3 linked regions of the Homo sapiens genome follow. The protein of the gene in region 3 interacts with the protein of the main gene of each other region in a pairwise test. Each region holds a gene or a part of one and is shown on either strand. Other genes may lie near its edges. The genes, in order: RBL1, RCHY1 and AOX1.

What was found.
Region 1: the proteins of AOX1 (region 3) and RBL1 interact in a two-hybrid assay, tested with the Homo sapiens proteins (one large-scale study listed by BioGRID and IntAct).
Region 2: the proteins of AOX1 (region 3) and RCHY1 interact in a two-hybrid assay, tested with the Homo sapiens proteins (one large-scale study listed by BioGRID and IntAct).

What each region holds. Positions count from the first base shown.
Region 1 is NC_000020.11:37,068,470-37,072,122, forward strand, and holds part of RBL1 (retinoblastoma-like protein 1), read right to left. Parts: intron 1-3,653. UniProt on the Homo sapiens protein: Key regulator of entry into cell division. Directly involved in heterochromatin formation by maintaining overall chromatin structure and, in particular, that of constitutive heterochromatin by stabilizing histone methylation.
Region 2 is NC_000004.12:75,504,379-75,508,031, forward strand, and holds part of RCHY1 (RING finger and CHY zinc finger domain-containing protein 1), read right to left. Parts: intron 1-3,653. UniProt on the Homo sapiens protein: E3 ubiquitin-protein ligase that mediates ubiquitination of target proteins, including p53/TP53, TP73, HDAC1 and CDKN1B. Mediates ubiquitination and degradation of p53/TP53; preferentially acts on tetrameric p53/TP53.
Region 3 is NC_000002.12:200,609,964-200,613,616, forward strand, and holds part of AOX1 (aldehyde oxidase), read left to right. Parts: intron 1-1,420; coding exon 1,421-1,530; intron 1,531-2,645; coding exon 2,646-2,830; intron 2,831-3,653. UniProt on the Homo sapiens protein: Oxidase with broad substrate specificity, oxidizing aromatic azaheterocycles, such as N1-methylnicotinamide, N-methylphthalazinium and phthalazine, as well as aldehydes, such as benzaldehyde, retinal, pyridoxal, and vanillin.

The sequences.
Region 1 (3,653 bases), on a different chromosome or scaffold from region 3:
AGCAAGACACTGTCTTACATGAACAAAGAACAAACACCATCCCTCAAGCCTAAATTTAATTAAAAAAAAAAAGTCCTCACTATGAAATCACTTTCGTTCCCAGGATCACCAGGGGAATACAGGTTATTAATTAGTGGTCATCACATAGAGTTTACTGCTATGGAGGGAGCGAGAGCACCTATCTACTTCCTTTATTCTCTATATTACCTAGACAATATTTTGCATAAAATTTACAAAGTTAATGTTAGTTAACAGATTGACAGGTTATAAAATTAGTTTGAGATCACCTGAGATCGGGAGTTCAAGACACAGCCTGAGCAACATGAAGAAACCCCGTCTCTACTACAAATACAAAATTAGGAGCTCTCCCTCTCCCTCTCCCCACGGTCTCCCTCTCCCTCTCTTTCCACGGTCTCCCTCTCATGCTGAGCCGAAGCTGGACTGTACTGCTGCCATCTCGGCTCACTGCAACCTCCCTGCCTGATTCTCCTGACTCAGCCTGCCGAGTGCCTGCGATTGCAGGCTCGGGCCGCCACGCCTGACTGGTTTTGGTGGAGACGGGGTTTCGCTGTGTTGGCCAGGCCGGTCTCCAGCCCCTAACCGCAAGTGATCCGCCAGCCTCGGCCTCCCGAGGTGCCGGGATTGCAGACGGAGTCTGGTTCACTCAGTGCTCAATGGTGCCCAGGCTGGAGTGCAGTGGCGTGATCTCGGCTCGCTACAACCTCCACCTCCCAGCCGCCTGCCTTGGCCTCCCAAAGTGCCAAGATTGCAGCCTCTGCCCAGCTGCCACCCCGTCTGGGAAGTGAGGAGCGTCTCTGCCTGGCCGCCCATCGTCTGGGATGTGAGGAGCCCCTCTGCCTGGCTGCCCAGTCTGGAAAGTGAGGAGCGTCTCCGCCCGGCCGCCATCCCACCTAGGAAGTGAGGAGCACCTCTTCCTCGCCGCCATCCCATCTAGGAAGTGAGGAGCGTCTCTGCCCAGCCGCCCATCGTCTGAGATGTGGGGAGCGCCTCTGCCCCGCCACCCCGTCTGGGATGTGAGGAGCACCTCTGCCCGGCTGCGACCCCGTCTGGGAGGTGAGGAGCATCTCTGCCCGGCCGCCCCGTCTGAGAAGTGAGGAGACCCTCTGCCCGGCAACCGCCCCGTCTGAGAAGTGAGGAGCCCCTCCGCCCGGCAGCCGCCCCGTCTGAGAAGTGAGGAGCCTCTCCGCCCGACAGCCACCCAGTCTGGGAAGTGAGGAGCGTCTCCGCCTGGCAGCCACCCAGTCCGGGAGGGAGGTGGGGGGGGTCAGCCCCCCGCCAGGCCAGCACCCCCATCCGGGAGGGAGGTGGGGGGGTCAGCCCCCTGCCAGGCCAGCCGCCCTGTCCGGGAGGGAGGTGGGGGGGTCAGCCCCCCGCCCGGCCAGCCGCCCCGTCCAGGAGGTGAGGGGCGCCTCTGCCCAGCTGCCCCTACTGGGAAGTGAGGAGCCCCTCTGCCCGGCCACCACCCCGTCTGGGAGGTGTGCCCAACAGCTCATTGAGAACGGGCCAGGATGACAATGGCGGCTTTGTGGAATAGAAGGGCGGGAAAGGTGGGGAAAAGATTGAGAAATCGAATGGTTGCCGTGTCTGTGTAGAAAGAAGTAGACATGGGAGACTTTTCATTTTGTTCTGTACTAAGAAAACTTCTTCTGCCGTGGGATCCTGTTGATCTGTGACCTTACCCCCAACCCTGTGCTCTCTGAAACAAGTGCTGTGTCCACTCAGGGTTAAATGGATTAAGGGCGGTGCAAGATGTGCTTTGTTAAACAGATGCTTGAAGGCAGCATGCTCCTTAAGAGTCATCACCACTCCCTAATCGCAAGTTCCCAGGGACACAAACACCGCGGAAGGCCGCAGGGTCCTCTGCCTAGGAAAACCAGAGACCTTTGTTCACTTGTTTATCTGCTGACCTTCCCTCCACTATTGTCCTATGACCCTGCCAAATCCCCCTCTGTGAGAAACACCCGAGAATTATCAATAAAAAATAAATAAATTTAAAAAAAAAAACATAAAATAAAATAAAATTAGTTTGAGGGAAAACAGAAGTCTCCCAAATGGAAAGACAATTCCATTTTCCAAATGGGAATTTGATTACAAAGCACCAGATTGTTACAGGTTAGGAGTAAAATTCAAGAGTTTGAGTTCCAATGTGTGGTTCCACAACCAAAAGTAAAGAAGGTAGCACATACTCAGAAAAAAACTTAATAGTTCTGGTGCCCAGGTTGGAGTGCAGTGGCACCACCTTGGTTTACTGCAACTTCCACCTCCTGTGTTCAAGCAAGCCACCGTGCCCAGGCCAATTCTGGGTACATTTTTTTATGTCCCTATGTTAACGTGGTCTTAGATAGAAAACTTGTCATGTCAAAGCTCACTTAATTAAAGGTCTAGCAATATATACAGAATAATACTTGTAATTTTTTTTTTTTGAGATGGAGTCTCAGTCTGTCACCCAGGCTGGAGTGCAGTGGCATGATCTTGGCTCACTGCAACCTCTGCATCCCAGCTTCAAGCAATTTTCCTGCCTCTACCTCCTGACAGCTGGGACTACAGGTGCACACCACCATGCCTAGCTAATTTTTGTATTTTTAGTAGAGACAAGGTTTCACCATGTTTGCCAGGATGGTCTTGAACTCCTGACCTCAGATGATCCACCTGCCTCGGCCTCCCAAAGTGCTGGGATTACAGGCATGAACCACTGCACTCGGCCCTATGTTCTGATTATTTCATGTAGATTGGAAAGGCTTACTTGAGTCCATTTCGCCTGGCCAATACTTATAATTTCTTTTTAAGGTGACAGAAGACATTAATAGCAAATCATCCAAAGCTATTTAATGTGGTTTGGATGTTTTGTCCCCTCCAAATCTCATGTTGCAATGTAATTTCCTTGGCTGGGCATGGTAGCTCATGCCTGTAATCCCAACACTTTGGGAGGGTGAGGCTGGAGGATCACCTGAGCCCACCAGTTTGAGACCAGCTTGGGCAACACAGTGAGATCTCGTCTCTACAAAAAATTTAAAAGTTAGCAAAGCATGGTGGTGTGTGACTGTGGGCCCAGCTACTCAGGAAGCTGAGGCAGGAGGATCACTTGAGCCTGAGGGGTTGAAGCTGCAGTGAGTCATGAACATGCTACTGCCTGGGCAAGAGAGTGAAAGCCCGTCTCAAAAAAATAAAAAAGAAACGTGACCTCCAATGTTGGAGGTGGGCCTAGTGGGAGGTGTTTGGGTCATGGGAGCAGATCCCTCATGAATGGCTTGGTGCTCTCCTCATGGTAGTGAGTTTAGTTGTCACTCACCTGAGATCTGGCTGTTTAAAAGTGTGGCACTTCCCACCCTCAATTGCTCCTGCTCTCATCATGTGATGTGCCTCCTCCCCCTTCACCTACCGTGACTGTAAACTTCCTGAGGCCCTCACCAGGAGCAGATGCCAGCCCCATGCTTCCTATACGGCCTGCAGAACCCTGGGCCAAATAAATCTCTTTTTTTAAATAAGTCACCCAACCTCAGGTATTCCTTCATAGCAACGTAAAACGTCCTAATACAGCATTCAAACTCTGGACATGCTGATATAATCTGAGACTCTTAAGGACCTCATTAAAAGATTCTTACCAACAGCAGCAAAAAATTTGTCAGATTACT
Region 2 (3,653 bases), on a different chromosome or scaffold from region 3:
TTTCAGCCTACTCAACATGAAGAAGGATGAAGACCTTTATGATGATCCATTTCCACTTAATGAACAGTTAACATATTTTCTCCTTATGATTGTCCTAATATTTTTCTCTAGTTTATCCTAAGAATATAGTATATAATACATATAACATACAAAATATGTATTAATTGGCTATTTGTGTTATTGATAAGACTTCCAGTCAGTAGCAGGCTATTAGTAGTTAAGTTGTGGGGAGTTGAAAGTTATACTCAGATTTTCAACTGAGCTGGCACTTGGTGCCCTTAACCCCCAACATTGTTCAAGGGTCAAAAGCAGTTACAGAGGACACTGACATATTTGAGCACACATTATCTTCAACTTGGAATACATGGAATTAAAATTTGGGTTTGCAGTGTTCAAATTCTTAGTAAAATTTCCAGTGAAGTTAATTTTCACTATCCTTTATTCTTTCGTCTGCACATTATTCACAAAAGGGCTTTAAAATATTTTTTAAAGTAAAAAGAATCCATTATACTTAAATGGTAAATGGCGATGACTAATTTTTCTAGTATATTCAGGGTTATCATAATACTGAAAACACTGCCAAAGATATACTGCCTACACATTACTGTGCACCTACTGTATATACGGCAGCGGTCACCAACCTTTCTGGCACCAGGGACTGGTTTCATGGAAGACAATTTTTCCATGGACCGAGGTTGGGGGATGGTTTCGGGATGAAACTGTTCCACCTCAGATAATCAGGTATTAGATTCTCATAAGGAGTACACAACCTAGATCCCTTGAATGCACAGTTCACAATAGGGTTTGTGCTCCTATGAGAATCTAATGCTACTACTGATGTGACAGGAGGCAGAGCTCAGACAGTAATGGTCGATCACCCACCACTCACCCTGCACTGGGCGCAGCTCAGTTCCTAACAGGCCATGCACCAGAATCCGCACCCCAAGCACTGGGGACCCTGATATAAGGCACTCCCAGGTATAGAAATTTAAAATATGAAAATACCATGATCTCATGAAGTTTAATATTTACCATGTAGCATGAGATGTGTACTTTGCAGTAACAATAACTTGAATGTCAATAAATCAACCAATAAAAGAGGGTATGATTTTCTTGGTTGTGTGTGGTAATTAGAAGCTATGTGTAGATATGATATACAAAATAACACTACAAAAGTGAAAATGAATTAGAGTTAATCAAATAGGATGAATCTTAGAAACAGAGCTCAGTAAAAAAACAAAAAGAAAAAAAGGCCATATATATGATTTTTAAAATAAGCAAAATGAAACATATATTGTAACTTCTACTTCCACAATGACGAAATAGCTTCTATAGGACTAAAACTCCTACTGAGAACTAGAAAAACTCAATTTAAAGAAAACAAACAAGCTGTTTAAAAGTAGTAAAGAGCAACTGAGTGCTTGAAGGGCAAAGATCTCAGAGAGAAAGCAAATATACTGAGGCAAAGTCAATAGTCTCTACTTCTTTCTTCCTTGGGAGATTTTTAGACCCTAAACTGTGCTGTGACAAGCTAAGAAACTAAACAGAGAGCAACAGGTAAGAGCCTAAGAAACTAAGTAAACCCTCTGAAAGTACTCCTATGCTAGGGGGCCAAAATTTGGAGTCCAGATTCCACCACGAAAGAGATGGGCCTGGTAAACAACCCTAGCTTTAAGTCAAGATCTCCAAGGGACTATGTCCTAGGAGCATAAGAATAAAGGGAGGAAAAAAAAAAAATAGAACAGGACATACAAAAAAAAAAAAAACAAAAATTAGTCTCTAATCATATCAATGCTAAATTGGATTAAGGTTATCCATCCCTACATTAACTGCCTTCTGAAAGAAAATTAAATTCTCTCTGAAAAAAAAATAGCATCGAGAGCTTAATAAATTTTTACATATTATGTCCAACAATCAACTAAAAAAAAAAATCAAGCATGTCAAAAGGCAGAACCAAACACCAAGGGAGAAAAAACAGAAAACAAAATTTACCCATAGATAATCAAGATATTGGAGTTATTAGGCACAGTCCTTTAAATCATCTGTGATCAATACATTCAAAGAAAAAAAAGGTAAAGAATTTCACCTGACAACTAGAAAATAACAAGAATGAAGATAAAATATAAATTTTATAACTTAAATAAATAGATAACTTGGTAGGCTTAAAAGCAGATTCAATGCAGCAGAAGAGAGACCTGGAAGTTAATCTGTGGAAAGTATCCAATTTAAGCATAAAGAAAATCAAAGTAGGAGAAATACAGGAAAAAAAAAAAGAGACATGGGATGTAGTAAAAAGATCTATGGGATGGAGTCTCAGAAGAGGTGGGAAAACGGTACAGAAACATTATCTGAAGAGAAACTGGCCAAAAATATTTCAAAATTGACAGAAGACATCAAGCCACAGATTCAACAAATGCTACAAACCCCAAGCCAGATAAATATTACACTCAATCAAACCTGGACACACGGAAAAAATACTAACAACCAATGACTTAAAAAACAGCGAGAGGAGGATAAAAGACATTTTAACTTCAAAGAAGCAATAATAATCCTGAGAAATGATATTTTTAAACAGAAACCATGGAATCAGAATATCTTTAAAGTGTTGGGAGGTCAGGGGAACCAATACCTGTAAACTTAGAATTCTACACCCAGCAAAAATATTCAAAAATGGAGGCAAAAAAAAGACATTTTTCAGAGACAAAAAAAACTGAGAGAATGTATCATCAGCAGGACCTCACTAAAAGAAACACTAAAGACAATTCTTTAAGCAGAAGAAAAGTAACTCCAAAGATAATGCTGGAGACCTACAGGAAAGAAGGGCAATAGAAACGGTAAATATATAACAACAATAGCATATAAAGACTCTTAGTGTTTAAGGTCCTAATATTGTCCAAGAAGTGATAAACATATTATTCTAGTAAGCCAATGATGTATGTTATAATTTCTAGGATAACCACTAAGAAAATAATTGAAAAATGTATAACTAACAAGCCTATAGAGAATAAAAGCAAATAGGAAAGCAACAGATTAATCCAAAGAAGACAAGAAAGGAGAGGAAAAAAGACAAATACTAAGGCAATAGAAACTACCAAAACTGTAGATTGAAACACGAACATATCCTAACTACCTTAATAAAAAACGAACTATATACTCCAATTAAAAGACAGTTTTATCAAACTGGATTGAAAAATTAAAATTCAACTATATGCTGTTTTACAAGACACATGACTTAAATGTAAGTATACAAAAATGTCTAAATGGAAAAGGATATACATGCAAAAACTCATCGAAAGAAAGCTGATATAGATACAGTAGAGCCTAGGGCAGGAAACATTACTAAAGATAAAAAGACACATTATATAATAATAAATGGGTCAATCATACAGGAAAATGTAATAATTTTAAGTATGTGACCGCTGAAAGACATGGCCTTAAAACATACAAAACAAAACACAAAAGAGCATATACTATATGATTCCATTCATTAAAAACTTCCAAAAGTCAGCATACTGGTTACCTTTGGGGAAGTGTATTAATTTGGAGGGGGCACACAGGAAGCTATGAAGGTGCTATGAATGTTGTGTTTCTTGATCTGGGTAGTGGTTACAAAGGCATGTTCATTTGTTAAAATTCATAAAATCATTTGCTTA
Region 3 (3,653 bases):
TTGGTCCTCTGTAAATTTGTGGGGTTTTTTTTCGTTAAAAAATATGGACTAGTTTTCTATCATCTGCATTGTTAAATACTTACTCTTCATACCATTTAAACCATAAAACTATCTTTTTTTTTTTTTGAAATGGAGTCTCGCTCTGTCACCCAGTCTGGAGTGCAGTGGCACAATCTCAGCTCACTGCAACCTCTACCTCCTGGGTTCAAGCGATTCTCCTGCCTTGGCCTCCTGAGTAGCTAGGACTGCAGGCATGTGCCACCATGCCCAGCTAATTTTTGTATTTTTAATAGAGATGTGGTTTCACTATGTTGGCCAGGCTGGTCTCGAACTCCTGACCTCGGGTGATCCACCCGCCTCTGCCTCCCAAAGTGTTGGGATTACAGGCATGAGCCACAGTGCTTGGTCACAAAACTATCTTAAAGAGGAAGATTTGCATTCAGGGTTTTCAATTTGAGTAACATCCCCTAAAAGTCATACTATGAGAAACAGGTTTGTGATGTGAATATAGACATCAAAAGCTTCTTAGCTTTCAGTATTTTGTTATAGTTTTAAACTGTTCCTCTTCCTTATATATTAATTAAAGAACTAAAATTCTTCAGGTGTTGGAACAAGATATAAAAAAGTAAGATAACATCTCAGTAGTATACAAATTTATTAAAGATAATTTCTTATTCATGACTGTATCTAGTGGGGTTCCTGGTTATAAACAATAAATATTTGTTGGCTGACTTGATCAGAATATCAAAAGAGATATTAATATTTACTCCCTACTTGTAAAGTTTTAAGTGAATTGTGTTGTCAGGAAGAGGACTGCTAAGGTTCTATTCTACCTGAAACTCTGGGCTACTCTGTGAGATCTTTTCATCTATTTTTTAAATCTATTTTTTATTTTTAAAAAAATTTTTTAGATGGAGTCTCACTTTGTCATCCAGGCTGGAGTGCAGTGGCATGATCTCAGCTCACTGCAACCTCTCCCTCCCGGGTTCAAGTGATTTTCCTGCCTCAGCTTCCTGAGTAGCTGGGACTACAGGTGCGCACAACCATGCCCAGCTAATTTTTTTGTATTTTTAGCAGAGAGAGGTTTCACCATGTTGGCCAGGCCGGTCTCAAACTCCTAACCTCAAATGATCCACCTGCCTTGGCCTCCCAAAACACTAGGATTACAGGTGTGAACCACCACGCCCAGTCGATGTTTTTATCGATGAGAAAGCAAGGAAAACAAAAAGAGATGGGGCCTAGACTAGAAGAAACATTGCAAGACGCATTATAGGGTAAAAGATTTGCGAAGCATAGGAAGAGCACCTGTTTCCCTGAACAACCGGTTTCCTCAGGTATTTGGTAGAATTACTTCCTAAGTTTTGGAAGTTTATTTAACAGACCAAACAGATCCCAGGGAAAGTGTCATTTCTTTCCACAGAAGGAAAACGACAGATTCCTTTAAATGAGCAATTCCTCAGCAAGTGCCCTAATGCAGATCTTAAGCCTCAAGAAATCTTGGTCTCAGTGAACATCCCCTACTCAAGGAAGGTGAGAACATCCCACTGTCAATTTCCCAGTTGCACCTGTGATGCTATGGCTTGTTTATTCCAGTATATGGTGGAATAAGAAAAAGGGTGAAGTGTTTATGTGGGAGATAAAGGCTCAACTTCAGGAAGTGGTATGAGGTCATTATTTTAAGACTTGTGAATAGTTGCCTTTTCCTTGTATTACGCATGCCCCTATCATTCCTCGAATTAGGAGATTTTTTTTTTTTTTTGAGATCGAGTCTCGCTCTTTTGCCCACACTGGAGTGCAGTGGCATGATCTGGGCTCACTGCAATCTCTGCCTCCCAGGTTCAAGCGATCCTCCTGCCTCAGCCTCCCGAGTAGCTGGGATTACAGGTGCGCACCACCATGCCCAGCTAATTTTTGCATTTTTAGTAGAGACGGGGTTTCGCCAAGTTGGCCAAGCTGGTCTGGAATTCCTGACCTCAGGTGATTCACCTGCCTCGGCCTCCCAAAGTACTGGGATTACAGGTGTGAGCCACCACTCCCAGACTTATCTCTGCCATTCTCGCTCTTTCTCCCCCTACCCCAAGCTCTAAAGTAACTTTCTAAAAGGTTTTTGTCCCATAAGCCTTTCTCCCTAAATATGACATGAAGAGTATGCCTCTACCTATATCTTGGGTTTTGAAAAAAGCCTAAAAATACATTTGCAATAGAACTTATTGGAAAAAACATGAGGCTTTGCATGAGATAGAGTCAGGTTTGAATCCTGGTTTCAAGGCCTGAACTAATTACTGAATCCTTCTGCGCCTTGGATTCCTCATCTGTAAAATGGGAATAATCAAGCCTGCCTCAGAGGATGTATTAGTTTGCTAGGGCTACCATAACAAAGAACCACACACTGGGTGGCCTCAACAACGGAGAATGATTTTCTGGAGATGCTGGGGGCTGCATATCTGATATCAATGTGATACTCAACATACACATACCGTCCAGCACGTAGGTGATGCTCAACACACACACACTACCTGGTGTGTAGGTGACACTCAACACACACAGACTGCCCGGTGTGTAGGTGATACTCAAGACACACAGACTGCCCAGTGCATAGGTGATGCTCAGTGTTTCTACATGTGCCACTTAACTGTTTCTTTCAGTGGGAATTTGTGTCAGCCTTCCGACAAGCCCAGCGACAGGAGAATGCGCTAGCGATAGTCAATTCAGGAATGAGAGTCTTTTTTGGAGAAGGGGATGGCATTATTAGAGAGTTATGCATCTCATATGGAGGCGTTGGTCCAGCCACCATCTGTGCCAAGAATTCCTGCCAGAAACTCATTGGAAGGTAAGGCATTAGAAGTAAGGGCTCCTCTAATACTTGTCCTTAGACTCCAAGTATTAGAGGAGCCCTTTTTGTGGTGAGATGTGATTACAAGAAGAAAAGTGTTCCATACCTTTCTATTTAATGGCTGGGAATTCCAATAAGATTTTGTTATTATTTCCATATGTCTTGATGTTAGTGAATTCTGAAGTGGGAATTATATACTCTGTGTGCGTGTGTGTGTGTGTGTGTGTGTGTGAGAGAGAGAGAGAGAGACAGACAGACAGAGAAGCCCTCCCTCAACAGTGCAAATTTGTATTCTTTATTTTGGGAGAATAATTTGCCATGATGAAAAACCAATTATGTGAGTTTGTTCTATAATAAATTGTTAAAGGCATTTGCTTACCTGACTTCCTATATCTAAAGATGACACTAATAGCTAATATTTCTTGAGCATTACTTGGTATCAGCTGCCATAACAAAGCATAGTGATTAAAAGCATGAGCTTTAAAACTTGAGAAAGGCAGACTGGCCAAAATCTCAGTTTACCCTCTGTTAACTCCTCCATGCTCTCAGTCAGCTTACTTAATTATATTGGTACTTTGGTTCCCTAGCTGTCAAAGATGGGTGATCATACCTACCTCACAGGGCAGTTGAGAGGATTAAATGAGTGAATACATATAAGGTGCTAAAAGCAGATCTTGGCATGCAATAAATGTCCTAGTGAGGACATTTATTAGTGAGTAAATGAGGGTCAGTTACTCCTGGACTGTGGATTTTATATGAGTTGTCATTTATTTCTCTAGATCATTCTGTGAGTTGGGTTCTAATATTCCCCTTTTACAGG